2 linked regions of the Homo sapiens genome follow. The protein of the gene in region 2 purifies or fractionates together with the protein of the main gene of each other region. This does not show direct contact. Each region holds a gene or a part of one and is shown on either strand. Other genes may lie near its edges.

Region 1 (7,011 bases), on a different chromosome or scaffold from region 2:
ATGAAAGAAATCACAGAAAAGGAACCCTTTAGAAGAGCCTGTTAATATCCTCCCTGCCCTCTAGCCTACTTCTCCTGAGAGTTGTGTACACTGGCTCAAATCTCCCCACTAATGTGCCTTCCCCTTCATGGACTCTGCTCTCCTCAAAGTCACCAATGGCCAGCAAACCTCTAGACCCAAAACAAGTTCCATCGTGAACTTATGGCAGAACATGACACTTGATCACTCCCTTCTTAAAACTCTCTCTCCAGTCTGTCCCAATGTCCCATTCCCCTGATTTTCTCTATTAATTAAAAATTTTTGCCGGGCGCAGTGGCTCACGCCTGTAATCCCAGCACTTTGGGATGCTGAGGCAGGTGAATCACAAGGTCAGGAGTTCAAGACCAACCTGGCCAAGATGGTGAAACCCCGTCTCTACTAAAAATACAGAAAGTCGCCAGGCATAGTGGCACGTGCCTGTAATCCCAGCTACTCGGGAGGCTGAGGCAGAGAACTGCTTAAAACCTGGGAGGGGGAGGTTGCAGTGAGCCAAGCTCGTGCCACTGCACTCCAGCCTTGGCAACAGAGTGAGACTCCCATCTAAAAAAAATATATATCCAGACTTTGGAAACAGAAAAAGGAAAATGCCCTGTTGGTACTGTGCCAGGTGTTATCTGCCTGGGGAACCATCTGATTCTCTACAGATGTATAGCTTTGTCTGACTTCTTATGCACTATTGATTAGGGTATTTTACAACTGAGAGTAGAGGTTTATAGAAAATTCATAACAGGTGGCTGGGTGCAGTGGCTCACGCCTGTAATCCCAGCACTTTGGGAGGCTGAAGCAGGTGGATCACAAGGTCAGGAGATCGAGACCAACCTGGCTAACACGGTGAAACCCCGTCTCTACTAAAAAAAATACAAAAAATTAGCTGGGCATGGTGGCAGGCGCCTGTAGTCCCAGTTACTCAGGAGGCTGAGGCAGGAGAATGGCGTGAACCCAGGAGGCGGAGGTTGCAGTGAGCCGAGATCGTGCCACTGCACTCCAGCCTGGGTGACAGAGCGAGACTCCATCTCAAAAAAAGAAAAAAAAAAAAGAAAAAAGAAAATTTGGCCGGGCGTGGTGGCTCACGCCTGTAATCCCAGCACTTTGGGAGGCCGAGGCGGGCAGATCACGAGGTCAGGAGATCGAGACCATCCTGGCTAACACGGTGAAACCCCGTCTCTACTAAAAATACAAAAAAGTAGCCGGGCGTGGTGGTGGGCACCTGTAGTCCCAGCTACTCGGGAGGCTGAGGCAGGAGAATGGCGTGAACCCGGGAGGCAGAGCTTGCAGTGAGCCGAGATCACACCACTGCACCCCAGCCTGGGTGACAGAGCGAGACTCCATCTCAAAAAAAGAAAAAAAAGAAAATTTATAACAAGTAAATAATTCTTGTCCAGTAGTAATGCAAATGTTTTCTGTCTGGTGGTAAAGGGAGTCCTGGAGGTTATCGTTTCTTGCCTTACAGGACATTAACTTGCCTTGTCAAATTCATCTCAGCATTCCTTTGACTGACCAACCACATATTCATTCAAGTTCCCCTTCAAACTATTCTTCATATTTCTACTGGTTTCCTCATTTTCTAATGACTGGGTAACAGCTTTGACATGTGTTCATTTTACATCTGTTTGAGAGTCATGTTTTTCAACTTTTTGAAAATCAGCCCTTACCACCTTCCTAAATTCTCTGTGTCTCCAACTCAGCAGGCTGCATCGCGAACAGGAAAGGGGATGGGAGATGGTGACTAAGGTGACCACAAAGAGCAAGGCACAGAGGGCTTTCCTGACACGCGCCTAGGAGCCTTGGTGTTTGCCTGATGTCCCGGCTTGTCCTGGACTCCTCATGTACCTGCCGGCTGGTGTGCCAGGGTGCTGGGGCTCTTCTGGATGGCACTGAACTGCAACACTGAATCCTCACCGAATTGCGTCCTCAAGCAACAAGGCATCCTCCCCAGCAGGGTGAGGGGCCTGCCCAGCCTTCTCTACTGGCCTCCTGGTGTCCATAGCTGAGGAGGGATTACTTCCTCCTCTCCCATCCCCTAACCCCACAGGCCTAGTAATGGTGGGGGCTGTGACTCTTACCTATAGCTGGCCACCCCAACTACACATTTTGTTTGAAATTAAACACACACACACACACACACCCGTACATATTCTATGTATGCATTCAACCCATTTTTTTTTTTTTTTTTTGGAGACGGAGTCTCGCTCTGTCGCCCAGGCTGGAGTGCAGTGGTATGATCTCGGCTCACTGCAACCTCCACCTCCCGGGTTCAAGTGATTCTCCTGCCTCAGCCTCCCAAGTAGTGCATGCCACCATGCCCGGCTAATTTTTTTTTTTTAGTAGAGACACGGTTTCACCATGTTAGCCAGGATGATCTCGATCTCCTGACCTCATGATCTGCCCGCCTTGGCCTCCCAAAGTGTTGGGATTACAGGCATGAGCCACCGTGCCCGGCCTCAACCCAATTTTTAAAAGTACTTTGTGTCCCATTCATCAAATAAAACTAGTCCTCTAAAGAGCTCTGTCTTGTGTTTATCCTGTGGTTTAGCCCAAATTTAAGAAAAACTGTGATGTACTGCACCCCTTCTGTTGGACCCTGTATCTACATATAAATTATCACATTTAACCCTCACAACCTCCTTTGTAGGTAGGTAATGGTCCATTTTACTGATGAAGGAACTGAGACTCCAAAGTGCTAAGCAGCTTGCCTAAGGTCACACATGGTGGATGGGGCCCGGCCAGCCAGCTCGAAACCCAGGTGTGTCTGATGCTGACCATGCTCTTCCTTGGTTTATCATTATTTGCTCCTCCATGGTCAGAGCTGGTAGGGCCTCAGGGCCTCAGAGACTGTAGGGTCTCACCTATGCCCTCCTCAGATGGGAAAACAGACCCAAAAACCTGTCCAAGGTTACCCAGGGAGGAAGATGCAAAATCAGGACTCAGGCCGGGCGCGGTGGCTCATGCCTGTAATCCCAAGACTTTGGGAGGCCGAGGCGGGTGGATCGCTTGAGGTTAGGAATTCGAGACCAGCTTAGTCAACATGGTGAAACCCTGTCTCTACAAAAAAAAAAAAAAAAAAGAAAGAAAGAAAGAAAGAGGAGAGGGAGGAAGGAAGGAAAAGAGAAAGAAAGAAAAGAAGAAAGAAAGGAAGGAAGAAAGGAATAAAGAAAGAAAGAAAGAAAGAAAAAGAAAATCAGGACTCAGAACAGCAGCTGATCAGTGACACCCTCGGGACGCGTAGACAACCCCTCTCCCCCACCAGGCTCTCGTTAGAAATATCCGCCGGAAACTATGCTCACAGGTCTACAGTGGATGGCACCCTCAGGAGTCAGGAAATCGGCGTCCAAGTTCTGGCCTTTGGGCAGGTCTCTCCCTCTTGGAGTCTCAATTTTTGTGTATGTAACATGGGCCAATTTTGGGGAGACTTTTAAGAGACAAAGACTGGCAAGGCAAGTAACTTTATAAACCTACAGATTGTCCAGAGGTGATATATCAAGGCTCATTGTAAACTCTGGAAGACTTAGATCCAGCTTTTATCCCTTAAATGGCGTCACCTTGGGTCAATTTCTATGCCTCAGTTTCCTCATATATGAAATGGGGGTCAAAATAGGATCTACTTCATAGAGTTGTTCTAAGGGTTCGAGCGCTTGGAAGTGTCTGGCCCATAGTGATCACTCAGGAAAGTTGGCTTTTAGTACAGCTTTAGCCTCAAGGCGTAGCTACATTGTAACCCTTGACTACCCCGGTCTCCTCCAAGCTCCGTAGTTCCCGCAGGCCCCGCCCCCGTCCCCGCTCAGTCCCGCCTTCTCCTCCCCAGGTCCCGCCCGCGCAGCCGGCCCGGTTTTCTCCCGCCACCAGGGGGCGGCGGCGCTAAGGGCGGCCTTCTGGGCCGAAGCCGGCGACGCTCTAGGTAGCTGCGGCGGCTCCTCTGTGGCCAGTGGCAGCGGCGCTCTAGCCGGCGGCCGTGAGGGGCGGGCTCTCAGTGGTGCGGCCGGCAGGCAGCGATGGCGGCCGTACGGGGCCTGCGGGTGTCGGTGAAGGCGGAGGCCCCGGCGGGGCCGGCCCTGGGGCTCCCGTCCCCTGAGGCGGAGTCCGGTGTTGACCGTGGCGAGCCGGAGCCCATGGAGGTGGAGGAGGGCGAGCTGGAAATCGTGCCTGTGCGGCGCTCGCTCAAGGAACTGATCCCGGTACGGGCGGGGGTCGGGGGGTAAGGAAGAGGTCGCGGGGCTAGTGTCTAGCGCCGGAGGGGGCCGGAAGGGGCGGTGGCCGGAGCCCCAGCCGGGGAAGTCAAGGGAGCGGGAGAGGAGGGAGCCAGCGTCCTGGGAACGGGAACGCCGGGCTGGAGGAGGGACGCGGAGCGGGAGAAAGGACGCCGGGGCGCCGGAAATGGGTGTTGAGGGGGCTGGGGGGTGGTGGCGGAGAGCTGGGAGGGAGTTGAGGACCCCCCTCCGCTGCCCCCTCTGAGCCGCGCTGTGCAAGGAGGTGAGTGAGGAGGGGCTGGAAGGATGAGATAAAGGGGGAGCCCTGGGCGGGAACAGAACCAGGGGCAGCCCAGAAGGAGCTGTTGGGTGGCGCCAGCAACCAGGTCTCCTTGTGGGTCTTGCCCCGGAGGAATTTGTATCTGGGAAACATGGCACTCGCTCTTTGTCTTGAGAGGGCTGCACTTGTCAGCAGCAGAAACTCACTGTTTCTGTCGTGACTTCGGGGTCATCTTGCCCCCCCCGCAGCTCCAGTGACACCTACACCGTGGCCCCAGCATCTGACTCTTAATGAAAGCAAACTAGCAGACGACCAATAGACATCCTTGGTCCCTCCTTTACCGCGCTGGGGATGGTGAGAGGTGTTTTGCTTGTGACTTGGTGGCTGTATATCCAGTTCTCAGAGCTGGTTTCAGGCCTGGATGACTCCTCTTAATTTCTCACCTAACATGAATTACTTTTGACCACATGTCAACATATTTAGACTGAAGTTATGGAGAAAGGTTAAAGTATGATCGCTAGAGATGGCAAACGTTATAATTATGATTAACAACAGCTAATATAGTAGCATTTACCATTCACTATATTGTGTCACTTAAATATACTGGCCGTGCACGCCTTTAGTGCCAGCTATTCAGGAGTCTAAGTTCCAGACCAGCCTCAGCAATATAGCAAGACCCCTTTGAGGTCCCCCCTTTCCCCTCTCCCCATCTCAAAAACAAAACCAAAATAAATAAATATTACTGCAGTTGTGAAGCAGGTGTTATCATCCCTTTAGTCATTCAGTTCAACATGGTTTTTGTTTTGTTTTGTTTTGAGACGGAGTTCGCTCTTGTTGCCCAGGCTGGAACGCAATGGCGCGATCTCGGCTCACCGCAACTTCCGCCTCCCGGGTTCAAGCCATTCTCCTGCCTCAGCCTCCTGAGTAGCCAAGTACAATGGCCTGATCTTGGCTCACCGCAACCTCCGCCTCCTGGGTTCAAGCTACTCTTCTGCCTCAGCCTCCCAAGTAGTTGAGATTACAGGGATGTGCCACCGTGCCCGGCTAATTTTGTATTTTTAGTAGAGACGGGGTTTCTCCATGTTGGCCAGGCTGGTCTCGAACACCTGACCTCAGGTGATCCGCCCGCCTCTGCCTCCCAAAGTGCTGGGATTACAGGCCTGAGCCATTGCGTCCGGCCAACATGTATTTATTGCATCCCCCGCTATGTACCAAGGCACAGCCCTAGGTGCTTGATCAAGCTCAACCTCCCTCCTGGAGTTTATGTTCCATATAAACTCTAAATGACAAAAAGCCAATCTTGTGAAGATTGAAAAGGAGTTCCCCCAGCAGGGCCAGTAACAAGCACAGAGGCTCTGGGATGGGTCCAGGATTGTTGGAAACTTCTGTAGTACTAATGGAAGGGCAGTAAAAGAGGTCAGGAAGGCAGGTAGATACCACAGAGGAAACTGAGACCCAGAGAGGTCAAGAAAACTATACAGTGTCCTGTAATTAGTGACTGTCAGAGCTGAGGCTTCAGTCCTCGCTTGGTTTCCAAATCCCATCCCCTTTGCATTGCACTGTGCTGTATTTGCCTCAGGAGTTCTAGGTGAGGCTGGACCTTCTGCGTTGAGGTGGAGGGTTGTGCTCCACCTGGTGGCTGGGCATGAGGAATTCGTTCAGACTGGGTTGGGGAGCTAAGTGACTGTGCCTTATCTTTTGACATTTTCCACAAAAGCCTTTAGATTTTCTTTACATGGATACTTGGAGTTGATGGAATCACTTCAGTTTTTGGACAGGCTCTGATCTTCTTATTGGAGTGGTTGATTGATACCATGGAATCACTAGGATGGGGCTTCTTAATAAAAGGTTGTCAGGGGTGGGGAAGGGTTTTGAAAAGAGTGGCTATTCAAAAAGAACCAGACTTGCCAGGTGTGGTGGCTCATGCCTGTATCCCAGCACTTTGGGAGGCTGAGACAGACGGATCACCGAGGTCAGGAGTTTGAGACCAGTATGCCAACATGGTGAAACCTCGTCTCTACTAAAAATAAAAAAATTAGCTGGCGGTGGTGGCACATGCCTGTAATCCCAGCTACTCAGGAGGCTGAGACAGGAGAATCGCTTGAACCCAGGAGGTAGAGGTTGCAGTGAGCCGAGTTTGTGCCACTGCACTCCCGCCTAGGCGATAAGAGTGAGACTCCATCTCAAAAAACAAACAGAAAAACAGAAAGAACCAGACTGGTTGTGATGACTCACACATGTGATCCTAACACTTTGGGAGACTGAGGCAGGAGGACTGCTTTAGCCCAGGAGTTGGTGACCAGCCTGGGCAACATAGGGAGACCCTGTCTCTACAAAATAAAAAAAAAATTAGCTGGGCATGGTGGCATATGCCTGAGGGCCCAGCTGAGGGGGAGGATGGCGTGAGCCTGGGGAGTCGAGGCTGCGGTGAGCTGTGATCATTCTACTGCACTCCGGCCTGGGCAACAGAGCAAGACACTGTCACCAACAAAAAAAAAAAAAAAAGGA
Region 2 (7,021 bases):
AATATACCTTAACTTGAATTACATAAAGTAGTTAATCATTTAGATTACCTAAACTTCACTGGAATCCTTAGGAGTAGGAATTTTGTTAGCAGGGAAATGGAGAGGTAATTTTGGATCACTGGGCACTTCAAGAAAGGACATTCCTGGGTGAGTGGTGGAAGTTGGGGGCTTTAGACAATCTGAGGGCAGCATGATGGTGCCGGGAGGCTGGGCAGGGGGACTGCCAGGAGGTGGGAGAGAAATGCATAAGGGAGGTGGGAGGGCCAAAGACAAACTCTGCCTTCTTTGCAATTTTGCCTAGGGCCCTGGTGGTGGCAACCGCCTGTGTGCCACTGAAAATCGTGCCGATGCCTGGCATACTGCATAAATGGAAGCAGGGTACCGCGTGAGTTGAAACATTGGTCACACTATATAAAGTTTGTATATGTGAATCAGTGTAACTCATACCCATATAACTGGGGGTCTGACTGTATTTGGATTTTTCTGATAAGGCATCATGGGCTAAGGAAAAGAGCACTGGGCTGAGACTCAGGAGACCTGGTTTCTAGCCCCAGCTGTACCTCTAATTGTAACCTTGGGTAAGTCACTTAACCTTTTTTGCCTCAAGTTAAATCTGTAATTTGTTATATGGGAAACCAAATAATTTCCTATGTTATACTCAGAAATGTTGAAAAATAAATATATTTTAAGTTTTTTTAGAAAGGAGCTATAAGTAGATAGTAATTACTAGTTTATTTTATCTTGTTTATGATTCATTACGTTTTATAAATATCTTTCTGTTTTAGTTGTTAGCAGAGGGGAGAGGGATAATTTGTTTTCCCTGAACATATTCATTCTATTTGAAAGCAGGGAGGAGTTGCACAGGAAAATCCAAGAAACAGTTTGAGAATTGTCTGTGTGACAGTTGGAAGAACCCAGTACCCTCACACAGACTGTGATTTTTGCTCAGTTGGATTAATTGCAAGGATGTTCCTTAGCTAAAGCCCCTTTGCCAACAAACACAGTTTGGTCATAAGTCTCTAGTCTTGATCCCAGGAAAGTCTGGGAAGATGCAAGCAATAAGAATTAAATAAAATTGAGGGTGTGGATTTAGATTACATCCTTTTTTTTTTTTTTTTTTTTTTTTTTTGAGACAGGGTCTCTGTTGCCCAGGCTGGAGTGCAGTGGCACGATCTCGGCTCACTGCTACAACCTCCACCTCCTGGGTTCGAGTGATTCTCCTGCCTCAGCCTCCCGAGTAGCTGGGATTACAGGTGGCTGCCACTACGTCTGGCTAATTTTTGTATTTTTAGTAGAGATGGGGTTTCTCCATGTTGGCCAGGATGGTCTCGAACTCCTGACCTCGGGTGATCCACCATGCCCAGCCTAGATTACATTTTAAGCTTAGAAATTAGGTAAGTTATAGAAGGTAGTTCTGAGGGTTCTGTATCTCTTAATTGCTTATACCTTTAAATGGGAGCAGAGACCACCTTCGAAAGATTAAAATAGGCAGGAATGGCAGCCTGCCCTCCAAAACAACAAGTAGACTAGGAATGTTAGATAGAATTTTATAGCATCATTAATTGTCCCTTATGGTTAGGGACTGTTTCGGGCAAGTTAAAACTTTCAATAATTTTAACTATTTTAAATGTTAATCTTTCTAAATTGTAGGATATACTTCCTCAGTTAACATATTAATCATAATATTTTTGCTGATCAGTTGTACAGTAGTTATAGTTTGTGGGATATAAAACTGAAAGGATACTCATCCTCATACCCAGGAAAATACTGTTAAGAAAGCCATTTACTTGTTGCTAATGTAAGGTTAGTAGTACATAACCGTGTAATCTGTAAGATAGTATGACATTTCTGCCTTTCTGCAAAATTACTGAATCAAAGTTTGAAGTAGTGCGTTCTTTAATGGATTTTATTTATAAAATCATCTTTACTGTAATCTGTGTTCCTTGACTTTTCATCAACATTGAAAACATTTTCTCTTAATTTTTTCTCATTAACATAATGAACCATATTCATTTCTTGGTCAGTTGTGAGCCATTCTTTTATTCCACTTGGATTGTTCATTTTAAGTGAAGGAGGCGGAGCCTTTAATGTATACGCAGACATTTTTTAAATAATAACAGGATATTTCTTAGTCTAGAGCTTGTAAATTCTTTAATATAAGGAGTTTTATAGGATTAAACAGTAGTTTCTCTGCGTTTCAGTTAACTATTTAACTTTATCAGAGTTTCAGGCATATCCAAAACACTGAAAGCACCTGCATAGTGAATCAATGAAAAAAGAAAAGTTTTCCTCATTTTGCATTTTGAACTCTGAATAATATTTCTATCTACACAGCAGCCCAGAAAACAATAAAAGTATCACTTCATATAACATTGCATCGTTCCTGGATTCTCTACAGTTGTTTAGTTCTCCTCAAGTAAGCATATGCTTCTGAGACATTCTTTTACTTCAGGTAAATATAAGCAAAACAAAGAAAAATCATTTTGTCTATTTCTGCATCAGTTCTATAAGGAGCAAGTAAATTCTTTTATTTTCGTTTAGGTTGGATGTTGTCATATAAGGATAGATGGTAGTGTTCAACGTGTTCAAGATGGGTAGTAGGAATTCAATGGCCATGAGGTGTCATGGATCAAGGTCAGGTTTAGTGAATCAGGTACTCTTCAGTAACAGGTGGTTCATACAAAGCATTGAAGCTTAAAGTTGCTGTGAGTTCAGCAAGCAGGAGGGTTGAGAAGACAGGCAGATGGTTTAAAACTAAAGGTCAATAAGTGGGCAAGACTAGTTAAATGAGGCAGATACTCCCCAAAGATGGAATTCCAGAAAGGTGCTTGAAAAGGACTGAATTCTTAAAGCCTACTGCTGTTAGTATGTAGAGTTCTTGAGGAAACAAGCAGTTTGGCATAACTTAATCTACTAAGAAACTATAAGAAGGTGAAGGAAGTTGGAACATCTTACTGGAAAAAGAATGAGGGAGTGAAGAGGGAATCTTGTGAATTCAAAACTTGCAGAAAAGCTATTCTGTTTCCTTTTTGTTTAGGTTCTCATGCACTAGCAGCTGCTAGAATAGATATTGGAAGGCAGGGCCAAAATAGGTCAGTTGTTCAGTTTTGCAAGATTATTGAGGATATAGAGAAATTAATTTGTGAAAACTCTGAAATCATCTGCAGCTCCATGTTTTTGTTTGAACTGAATAACTTAGGACTTTGAGAAGTCAAAGCCGTCAGAAAGTAACATGAAGTCCATTCAGCTGAATAAATGTCATATTTTGCTATTAGCATAGAAAAGAATCTTTAAAACTTCTTTCCAAAAAGCACTCAGTATTGACCCATATGTTCCAGTATAGTTGTGAACCATGTACAACTGATGTTTGACTTATTTGACTCAACATGAAAGGAATTTAACCAGCTGCCCTTGCTGAATCTTGTCTCCTGAATATGGTAAATGGTTTTTGTTTTTAATCTTAATACCTTAGATTTCTGCAGACCCCAGTTTTCTCTTTTAGAGTTAACTGATAATTATTGGATAGTATCTATAATATACCTGGCTGTTCTGTTCTGTACTGTGCTCTAGTATTAGTTTAAATGGTAGACTTTTCTCTTAAAGTAACTTTAATAGTTTAATAGTTAAAGTTACTTGAAGGTATGTTTTAGATCAGGGACTGGCACTATGGCCTCCTGCTTTTGGTAAATAAAGTTTTATTGGAACACATCCATGCCGATTCATATACATGATGTCTATGGCTGCTTTGGCTTACGACAGCAGAGCTGAATGGTTGCAACAGAGTCATATGGCCCGCAAACCGAAAACATTTACCATTTGACTCTAACAAAAGCTTGTTGATCACCATTCTGGTTTAGTTATTCTAAACCAAGTGTGGTCCTTGGAGCAGCAATTCAGCATCACCTCAGCATCACGTCGTATTGTTAGAAATATAAATTCTTGGACCCACCTACTGAGTCAGAAATTCTGGATATGGGCCCCAGCAATCCATGTTTTTAGAAACCTTCCAGGTGATTCTGATACACATTAAAAGTTTGAGAAACCCTCTTCTAGATCAGTGTTTCCCAAATGTTTGTCACACTTATTGCCTTTATTATTATTTATTTTTATTTTTTATTTTTTGGAGACAGAGTCTCTGTCTCCCAGGCGTGAAATGCAGTGGCCTGATCTTGGCTCACTGCAACCTCCGCCTCTCGAGTTCAGGCGATTACCCTAGCTTCCCGAGTGGCTGAGATGACAGGCATGCACTGTCATGCCCTGCTAATTTTTGTATTTTTAGTAGAGATGAGGTTTTGCCATGTTGGCCAGGCTGGTCTCAAACTCCTGACCTCAAGTGATCTACCTGCCTTGGCCTCCCAAAGTGCTGGTATTACAGGCGTGAACCACCATGCCTGGCCTTGCCTTTATTATTATTTACTGTTTTCTGTTTATTTAATATTTTCCTTTATGTCAACTCACTTTCTAAAAATTTTAAGTTAATTTTAAAATGAAAGTTTATACCACCATAAAAATAAATACAATGAAAACAAAATGGTGTATTATGTAACTAGACTCTTGTCACTTAGGGTTCCTGTGCTAAAAATTAGAAGTTGTTAAATTTATTAAACAAGTACTGTTGCAAAATGGGAACTTTTTTTCTTGACTTAATTGTGATTAATAATTTCCTTACTGAGTGGTATTTAAAATGTCTTGTTGGCAAAATCATGTAACACCTAAAGTCATCTTTTGTGCAAATCTCATACTTTGGAAATTACTGTTCCAGGGAGTATTCATGTGAAAGGAAAGCTGTTTGAACTATATATATACCTAAGCCTGTAAGCAGAAATGACTGGACAGAAATACAAGCCTGTGAGACAGAGAGATCTAGGAGATCCCTAGAGAGGTCCATCAAGACCTCCAGGATGAAATTACCTCATTTAGCTCAATTTCTCACCTCTCCGTTAGTGCTTTGGTCCACGGGGGTCAGTGTTTCTGCAGGATTTCACCAACTGGTTCCACAGTGGGAATGTGAAGAGGTACCTGGCTGTGGGAAAAGCTGCTTATCAAAGAGAGGCCTGATAGAAATGCTAGGGAAAGTGGCTGTGAGCCTGCATTATGGACGGGAGCAGAGCGGCAGGGCATGTTGCTAGGACTAAGCAGTCGATTCACGTGAGTCTGGACACCATGTATAAATATTTTGAAAACTTCCTGTTACAATTTAATTTACTCCATTGTGTTAGAGGGAGTGCTTCCCTGCACATGGTGTTCTGTATATTTATTGGTTGATGTGCTTTAGGGTATAGTAATTATTTATAGCAATAGATTGATACCCAGGTTGCAGAGTTGCTTTAGTTATATCTTTATTTCCTTTTCTTAGAGATTATAGACATAATTTGCTTCTGTCATCTTTTGACCAAAAATCTAATGGGAATGAAGAATTACACTTGAATGTTTATTTTTAAGTAATAAGTTCTGTGATAGTGATTATAGGTGTCTGCATTTAAAAAAATGTTTTAAAAAGTACAGAGGTCAAACAAGCATCTGTATGATTGAACAAATGTTATTTCGTATATTTCTGTCAAATTTTAAAAAATGGATAAAGAGGCCGGGCACTGTGGCTCACGCCTGTAATCCCAGCACTTTGGGAGGCCAAGGTGGGTGGATCACCTGAGGTCAGGAGTTCAAGACCAGCCTGGCCAACATGGTGAAACCTGTCTCTACTAAAAATATAAAAATTAGCCAGATGTGGTGGTGGGTGCCTGTAATCCCAGCCACCCGGGAGGCTGAGGTTGGAGAATTGTTTGAACCCAGGAGACGGAGGTTGCTGTGAGCCCACATGGTGCCAATGCACTCCAGCCTGGGCGACAGAGTGAGACACCGTCTCAAAAAAAAAAAAAAAGTAAAAAGTGCATAAAGCATTACAAATAAAGTCTTTTGTGGTCCCCTTCACCGTCTCAGTCCTTTCCCCAGAGGCAACCCTTTTTGTAAATTTGTTGCATATTCACTGTGAGGCAGTATTTCTGCTGTGTTGTTTAGTTTTAAGGCTCACGTCTCCTTCATGGTGATCTGTTTTTCATTTTAACTTCTTCCTTTATCATTGGGTTGTCTATCACCTCTGTCCCTTGATATTTTCATCTTTTTTTTTCTTTTTTATTTCTTTTCCTTTGGATTTGGGGAGGCTCTAGTTGGCTTCTGTAGCTATCACCAGCTGATGAGAACTTGTCTTTTTTAATAGATAAATCAGCCAGTTACTTTTTCTTTGATTATTTTCAGCTATTGCTTGATAGCCAAAGATAGCTTTCGTTACTTCTAATTTTGTATATAGAAAGTTCTGGATGATAGAAGGCACCGGCTATCCAGAGTGCAATTGTTACTATGTCAGAATTACAGCTCTGCAAGTAAGTATCAAAATATAAAATTTAGCAGGCTGTAACTTTTTATGCCATATATCTTAAAATAAATTCTATATAACCTATTTTAGGACTTAATGTTAAAGTAACTATTCAGGCTTTTCTGATGTCTCTTGTAAATTTAAGAAGAGGAATAGGCTGATAGATTTCCTAAAGCACATACCCCCCAAAACATGATAGCATTGGTCCCTGCCAGCTACCAAGACCCTTTGCTTGTATTAATATAATGAGAGAAGATAGGTGCAGGGCATGGAATAGAGCCTTGGAATGGAGATTCTTTAGTATTCCTGTTCTCACATTTTCATCATCACCATTCTGGTTAGCTTCAAAAGATCCTACAAGGTTTTTCTTCTACTAACAAGGCTGTTCCCCAGTTTCATTCTTATAATCTTGTGATATGGATTTTCACAGACAAGTGGGCCAGATTTTTAACATTTTAAAAACATTAATCTTTGATCATATCCAGCAAGAATGAACTTGTTCTGGAGATTTCTTCTACAGTGGGCATCACATTTTAAAAATGTTTGGCTTGTCATGGGGATTATGGTGGGGGGTGATACTGGTACCTATTTCTGATTATAAACTTATGGGACCATATGAACCAGAAGATTAAGAAGGATAGCTTTTCTGAG

The links. The genes of interacting proteins can lie anywhere in the genome.
Region 1: the proteins of LUC7L2 (region 2) and NCBP3 purify together in Homo sapiens (co-immunoprecipitation; 5 studies listed by BioGRID and IntAct, with this or other methods). This does not show direct contact.

What each region holds. Positions count from the first base shown.
Region 1 is NC_000017.11:3,843,241-3,850,251, reverse strand, and holds the start of NCBP3 (nuclear cap-binding protein subunit 3), read left to right. Parts: upstream 1-4,005; 5' UTR 4,006-4,028; coding exon 4,029-4,211; intron 4,212-7,011. UniProt on the Homo sapiens protein: Associates with NCBP1/CBP80 to form an alternative cap-binding complex (CBC) which plays a key role in mRNA export. NCBP3 serves as adapter protein linking the capped RNAs (m7GpppG-capped RNA) to NCBP1/CBP80.
Region 2 is NC_000007.14:139,362,875-139,369,895, forward strand, and holds part of LUC7L2 (putative RNA-binding protein Luc7-like 2), read left to right. Parts: intron 1-7,021. UniProt on the Homo sapiens protein: May bind to RNA via its Arg/Ser-rich domain.